2 linked regions of the Homo sapiens genome follow. The protein of the gene in region 1 interacts with the protein of each later gene in a pairwise test. Each region holds a gene or a part of one and is shown in the gene's direction. Other genes may lie near its edges. The genes, in order: SH3GL3 and ARHGEF6.

What was found.
Region 2: the proteins of SH3GL3 (region 1) and ARHGEF6 interact in a two-hybrid assay, tested with the Homo sapiens proteins (one large-scale study listed by BioGRID and IntAct).

The regions. Positions count from the first base shown.
Region 1 is NC_000015.10:83,586,746-83,590,569, forward strand, and holds part of SH3GL3 (endophilin-A3), read left to right. Parts: exon of another isoform or gene 1-230; intron 231-237; coding exon 238-341; intron 342-612; exon of another isoform or gene 613-768; intron 769-1,916; coding exon 1,917-2,026; intron 2,027-3,824. UniProt on the Homo sapiens protein: Implicated in endocytosis. May recruit other proteins to membranes with high curvature.
Region 2 is NC_000023.11:136,679,622-136,683,445, reverse strand, and holds part of ARHGEF6 (rho guanine nucleotide exchange factor 6), read left to right. Parts: intron 1-601; coding exon 602-688; intron 689-1,477; coding exon 1,478-1,556; intron 1,557-2,569; coding exon 2,570-2,715; intron 2,716-3,773; coding exon of another isoform or gene 3,774-3,785; coding exon 3,786-3,824. UniProt on the Homo sapiens protein: Acts as a RAC1 guanine nucleotide exchange factor (GEF).

The DNA.
Region 1 (3,824 bases):
TGAGTTAAATCAAATTCATAATCACAAATAAATTTGAACATGTTTTTCCAGCATTTATAGCTCCATACCATGACCTGTATGATTATTATACAGAGCTCCTACATGAAATTAAATGAAATGGACCAAGGCAGACACTGGTCTTCCCTGCAAAGCTAGGTCTTTGCTGCTGGTCTCCTCTCTCTCTGGACATTACACAGGCTCGGGCCTCCATGGAATAATTTTGCACTTCTGCTGCAGGTAGAACAAGTCAGCCAGTTGGCTGTGTTCATAGAGGCAGCATTAGACTATCACAGACAGTCCACAGAGATTCTGCAGGAGCTGCAGAGCAAGCTACAGATGCGGTAAGCACCTCCACGTTTCTTACAAGCCAAGGGCTGCGGAGGTAACATCTATTGAAATCCATCTGTCTGTCTCTCCATCTCTCCATCTCCCCCTTCCCCTGCCTCATTCTGTTTTGAATTTTCTTTCACTGGCTTTCATGGTTGGATGTGGGATGGGACTGAGATAATAAGTACTGGCTTTGGCCAGTAGGATAGAACTGGGAAAAGGGACCTGGCAGCTTTTCTCCTTTTTCTTTTCATTAAATCCCTTTTTTTTGTGACCCGTGTTTAGGGCAACTAACCAAGTTGCTCTCCCACCTGGGACATCAACCCCTACAGAACTACCCTGGCTTCATTGCTGATTTGATGAGAGTTTAACTCCCCATTCACAAAGGGATGGAAAACATCCAGAGCTATGGAAAAAAGTGAGATGCTGTATGGAAAATATGTAAATATCTGTAAAAAAAAAAAAAAAAAAAAAAGGTAGTGCCTTCACTTCACCAGTACGAATTTCAGGATATGTTCATAATATTGACTAGTATTGAAAGAGTCAAAATATTGACAAATTTCAGGCTGTGTTCATAATATTGACAGGTATTGAAAGAGTCAAAAATATCTTCTGAACAATCAAAGAAAGGTTTCTGCATTCCTTGTGAATTTAATCATAGATGTAGTCTATACTTTTCTGAAAATTAGTAATATTATATATAGTCTGCATGGCAACCCTGTTTATTAAAATATTTTAAATTAGGTTTGATAACAGAAAATTGTTTTACACAGGATTATGGTAATGCATAAATTTGGAGGGATTTTTACTTAAATCAATGACGTAGTTACCTAGGGAAGACAAAGATGTGTTCAGTCCCTGAAGCATCCACTTCTGCAGGCAGATAGTTTACCTGTTACTGACAGGAGTGTATTTTCATAATTCTATCATAATCTATAAGAGTAGAGTGAGGGAGAAGGCAGCTCCCATCACTGGGTGCCGACCGCGTCCCAGGCACTTGCTGGATGCCTCAGAGACTTGATGAAGAAAATTAGTCTTTTGTTTTGTTTTGTTTTGTTTTGAGATGGAGTCGTGCTCTGTTGCCCAGGCTGGAGTGCAGTGGCGCCATCTTGGCTCACCGTAACCTCTGCTCACTGCAGCCTCCACCTTCCAGTTTCAAGAGATTCTCCTGCCTAAGCCTCCCGAGTAGCTGGGATTACAGGCGCCCACCACCATGCCTGGCTAATTTTTGTATTTTTCGTAGAGATGGGGTTTCACCATGTTGGCCAGGCTGATCTCGAACTCCTGACCTCAGGTGAGCACCTTGGCCTCCCAAAGTGCTGGGATTACAGGCATGAGCCACCATGGCTGGCCCAATTAGTCTTCTTCAAGATGAATTTCACTCACAAGCTCAAATAGGGAGTTGAAAAACTGCATTTGTGATATCACCTCCATCACTTCGGGCTACTCAAGAGTCAGTGTGTAAAAATCGTCCCTTTCATGACCACTGGCTGTAACCTAAGTTCCTGTGCTCAACAAGGCAGAGAGGATGTGTGTTTGGAAAGCTTTCAACATCAGATGTCTGGCTCATCTTACGATGTGTGTTACAGAATATCAGCTGCATCCAGTGTCCCCAGACGAGAATACAAGCCAAGGCCTGTGAAAAGGAGTTCTAGTGAGCTCAATGGAGTTTCCACCACCTCTGTAGTGAAGACGACAGGTAAGTTGACCATTCTAATATGCTAAGTGTGCCTTTAGTAAAGCACTTCTAGAAACACTTATTTACTGCTTGTTTCTGGGTCAGTGAATACACACAGACCCTGGATATCTTTCTTTGGTTGTTTGGTAAATTCCCTTTTCCCCTAAACGTGCCCCTTTTTTCTGTTCCCTGGGGAAGAATTCTATCACTTATATAATGTAGCATTTAGAACCTTGGCCATAGAACCATTATGGCTACATCATCCTTTATTTTTTTAACTCTTTGAAAATATTTTCTTAATTTATTTTTAAGTTGAAATTAGCATTTTTGAGCAACTGCTATATGCTAGATACTATCTTAAGTGCTGCATCGTTATTTTTTATTAAACAAGTGATGCAAATGTGTCTTTTAGTAAAATAATCAAACAGAAAAAAATTGGTAAAATAATCAAACAGAAAAAAAAATTTAATGGTATAAGTCATTCTATAGTCTCTTGTGATCACCTACACCATCGCAGTTCGCTTCCTAGATGTAGCCACTGTTAAAAAAATTTGGTATAACTATTATCATATCTATTGAGGTACATAAATATACACATAAACAGCGTTTTGGATTTTTTTCTGTTTTTTCTTTTTTTCTTTTTTGAGACAAAGTCTTGCTCTGTCACCCAGGCTGTAGTGCAATGGCATGAACATGGCTCGGTGCAGCCTTGACCTCCTGGGCTCAAGCAATCCTCCTGCCTCAGCCTTCCATGTAGCTGGAACTACAGGTGTATGTGACCCTGCCAGGCAAATTTTTTTATTTTTTGTAGAGACAAGGTCTTACTTTGTTGCCCAGGCTGGCCTGCAACTCCTGGGCTCAAGCAATCCTTCTGCCTCGGCCTTCTGAAGTGCTGGGATTATAGGCATGAGCCACTGTACCCAGCCTTTTTTCTGTTTTTTAAATGCGAGATTATACTAGGCATATTGTTTGGCAGTTTGCTTTTTAAAATGTATCACTGTTTCTTCGAGTTATTTCCATATCATGCATATAGATCTATCCCACTGTTTTAACAGCTTCATAGTTTTCTATTATACCATTTCCCTATTGGTGGACGTTAAGGTTTTTTCCAGTTATTTGCTACAGTGAGTATCCTTTATCACTGTGCTGGCTACATTACTATTAAAGCATGAACACCTGCTTCCCCACACCCATGCCAGTAGACTTCCATTTCTGCCAAGCACTCATGAGAAAAAAATGGTATCCAGTCTTAATTTGCATTTTCATGATTATTAGTGAGGGTGAACTTTCTTTTCTATATTTTAATTTGTATTTCCTTATGTCTGAATTGTCTGTTTATGTCATTTATTTGTGTTTTTTGGGAGTAGTTTGCTTTGTCTTATTGTTTTATAGGAGCTCTTTCCATATGAGGATATTAATAATTTTTTTCCTAGTTTGTCATTTATCTTTAAACTTTGTTTTTGGAGTGCCTTGTCCCTTTGTTGTTTTTGCTGTTGTTTGCTTTGTTTAGTTTTGCTTTGAGTATACAGAAGCTTTTATTTTGATGTAGTCAAATGTGTCTGTCTTTTGCTTGTGACTTTACATTTTGTGCCCTGTCATGATTACATTTTGTGCCCTGTTGTGAAAAGTCTTCCTATCCCTGAAGTTATTCTTCTACAGTTTTCTACTACTTTGAATAATCTTTTCTTAATATTTAGATCTTTATCATAAGGATTTATTTTTCTAAATGAAAAGAAATTCCCAAACTATCTTTCAGAGTTGTGCTACCATTTCACATCCCCACCAGCAATATATTAGTGATCTAGTTTCTCCACATCCC
Region 2 (3,824 bases), on another chromosome or scaffold:
TGGAGGTTGTGGTGAGCCGAGATCGTGCCATTGCACTCCAACCTGGGCAAAAAGAGCGAAACTCCGTCTCAAGAAAAAAAAAAGAAAGTGTATCTACTTTTATGTTTTACATAAATCCAATAATTATCTTGTTCTTAATGACCAAAGCTAATTTTATGAATACGACTTTAACAAACATGTTAGAGCATACTAAATCTCTTATCACCTGAAAACCCCTTCATCTTGCCATTTTTTCAAAGTAAAATATATTTTCATTTTGTGAACCTGGAGACTTATTTTGTGCCCAGGTCTAGCACATCTCACTGGCTGCATAAACTGTGGTGACTTCTCAGGCTTTCATACATGGAAAGCAAGCATGGTTATTTGTATTTAATTGTTATGTATAAGAAGAAGAGAGATAAACTGTGGGTTTATGTCCATGTCAAAGTAAAATTCAACTAGTTTTGTGTTTTCAAGTTGGGTATCTTTTTTAAAAAAAAAATTACCGTTAATGTTTCAGTTGTTTATATAAGGTCTATGTTATAAGGCAGTGATTCCAGAAATTCTCAACAGATAAAGTGTCCAATTCTGTTCTTCATGTATTATTTTCATTCCCTCTCAGGAAAAAGAGGAGCGGTACCTTATGTTATTTTCAAATGTCCTGATAATGTTATCTGCAAGTCCTCGGATGAGTGGCTTTATCTATCAGGTTAGTAAATTTCATATAAAACACATAGCAGACCCCCTAACGAAAACAGGTTTCCATCCAGATGCAATATCTCCACTATGGCATTAAAAGCTCAAGCCAGGAGAACCAGAATGTTCTGACCCTTCATTGTAATTAAAGAGCTTGTAAGAGCAGATGTTCCTTAGATCAAAGACCTTTGTATTAGTATAATGAGTTTATCTTGAATATATCCACCGCTTTAGTTATGCACTAGGTTTTGCATGCATAAATGGAAACTAGATAAATTAGCAGCAGTATTGTACAGGCCCATGTCATTATTGCTGAGAAAACATAAAGCTGGGACCTGCTCCTATGTTTGTCTTATTATAGTCACAGCACATGATTCAGGCTTCTAAGAAGCATGTTATTAAACTCCTTAGGAAATTAAATGTCCCTCAGTCAGCTCCCAACATATAGAGTATTATAAGTTACTATTGCCTGTTCCATCTTGGCCTGGCAATTAATAATTTTCATAACATCTGAGCCTTCACTTTTTTTTACTGATTCTTATGAAAATGTGTTAGAAAAGTAAACTGCTTTGTAAATCCTGATCTTATAGTTTAGGGTGTGTTAGCCAAACACAATCCACATTTTCCCCTTGCTTTCTTAGTCTGATTAAAATTTAGAGCAGGGAAACATATTATCTATTGACAGACTGGAGAAATACGTCTAGCCATAGTTTTGCCTTGCTGAGAGGGTCAGAAAATCTAAGTGAAATAAACAGAGACCTGTATAACTGCAGAATTAATGAGAATGTTCTTTTTCTAATAGGGAAAAATACCAATAGCAGGAACGGTGGTGACTAGATTAGATGAAATTGAAGGGAATGACTGCACATTTGAAATCACTGGTAGGTAATTTTCTCTTTTTCATGTAACTACTTCCAATTCTTTTTGGAATGAAGGGGAATTTAATAAATAAATGCCATTATTTCCTGTTACATAGGCCACGAGCAAATTTTATGCGGGCATGGCAAAGTATATTCCATTTCCTGGGATAATTAGGGTACAGCAATAGCACAGAGAAGTCTCCTCTCATTCAAAAGCCATGGCTTTGCCATTAGTTTCAATTTTCTGTTGCATGAGAGCTACTTGTGAGAGCTAAGGAATAACGAAATGGACTGATGTAAACGCAATTTTCTTCCCCTCTGTCATTTGTTCCCTGGTGGCAGAGGAGCCAAAGATATGGACTTTTATCAGCAATTTTATCATCAGCCCATGAGTTAGTAAGATTTGGTTGTATTTCTAAAAAGTTCTGAAAAGCCATCAAATTTTCTTCACAAATTGAGCATAATGCCAGGCTTCAGTAATGCCCCCTGACATTTTAGCTTATGATCCCTTTTGCCAGGTCTGTGTCATTTATATGTAGTGGCCTGACTGTTGGTGCTGATATGGCACAGTGGCTAAGACTGGGATCATGGCCTTACCCTCTTCTTTCCCAAGAAGGAGCTTAAGGTTTGGTGTTTGCCAAAAGGTTGTAAATAGTCTTAGTTGGATCTTGTTCCAACTTTGATACCAGGGGAACCAGGACAATATTCCCACTTTAGACTTAACTAGATGGACTATGTGCTTATGTTTTTGGATTGCAAGTTTGTTTATGGTGAAGTTTTACACTACTTTTAAGCTTCTGTAAGCAGTAAAAATCAAGGACAGTTTTCTAAATCAGACATGAATATTTATTTACTTTGTAATCACAGGTTATCTGTTTCTGATATAGAAATTTCAGCAGGGTTATCCCATAGGTATGAAAACCCCTGAAAATACACACCCAAGTCCTAGTTGTATGAAGTCTATTTATGAATGGGACAAGCTCAAGTTTTTCCTTGCCTTTTGTTTTCAAACTGATCATAATTGGGGGATGTAGGTAACACAGTGGAGAGAATTGTGGTCCATTGTAACAACAACCAGGACTTCCAGGAATGGTTGGAGCAGCTGAACAGACTGATCAGAGGACCTGCCTCTTGCAGTTCATTATCCAAAACCTCATCGTCATCATGTAGTGCTCATTCTGTAAGTAGTCCATGTGTTCTGTCCAGAGATTATTGAGTCTTTCGTCAACTCCTGCCTGCTGGAGACTTACAAGAAGCAGCGAGCACACCCTTAGTCTTTTGGGCAGCCTATATTTGTAGATTTTGAAGTACAGTTAAACCTCACTCATTCTGATTTCTCATTATGAGGCCCATCCAAATTAATGAAAAGGTTTACTTAGAGTGTGCAGTTCTGTTTGACAGTATTCAGATACCCCAACTAACTGCTAGCAAAGTATTTCTAACCAGAAGTCCTGCTAAAATATTTTAATGATAAGCAAGGCTTATTTCCATGAGCAATGGTTATTCTCCTACTAACAGTGGGCTAAGTCGAAACAAATAGTTTACCTCCCTAAGTACTTAAACATCTCCATGTCATCTCACTCATGCTCTCACATTTGCTCAGTAACCTTCTTCAAAGGTAAACTTTTAGCATTATCTCCTTCTGAGTTATCACAAATTTAGACATTGGAATTTGAATTGATGAGATTTTACTGTACTTGCTGAGTGAGATGGAAGATATGCTGTGTTGTTTGTTAACATACAAACCTATGATGCCAAAATTCCAGTTTTGAGGACTGTGTGTTGTGGTTGGAAGAATATGGACTTTGGCTTCAGATCTGGGTTCAAATCTTGGCTTTGCCAATTACTAGTTAGTTGCTTCCCTTGACTGAGTCTATGTCTTAGGCTGTTCTCATGAAATAACCTATTTAAGCACCTACTAGAGTGCCAAACATATCACTGAACTCAAATGTTGACTGCTACTCCATTTTCCTTCCTTACAGAGGAAAGAAAATTAAATTAATTAAATTCCAGATGAGAAAGAGAGGACAGGATCATGGAATGTTGAGTCAATTTTGTGCTGTTTCTTAGAGACCCGATAATCTGGACTGGAAAGAACCAGTTCTCAAACTAGAGACTTTTGTTTTTCCATCTATCCCTTTCTATGGCTGTCTTTGCTAATCCAATGAAGCTATTGTTGTTCTCTCACTGTGTGGCACAAGGTCGGGTTCAGATGGCAGATTGCCAACATCTCATCAGACATTTTCCCAGTCTTTTAGCTCTACCGGACAGCCCCGAGGACCCTTGGAG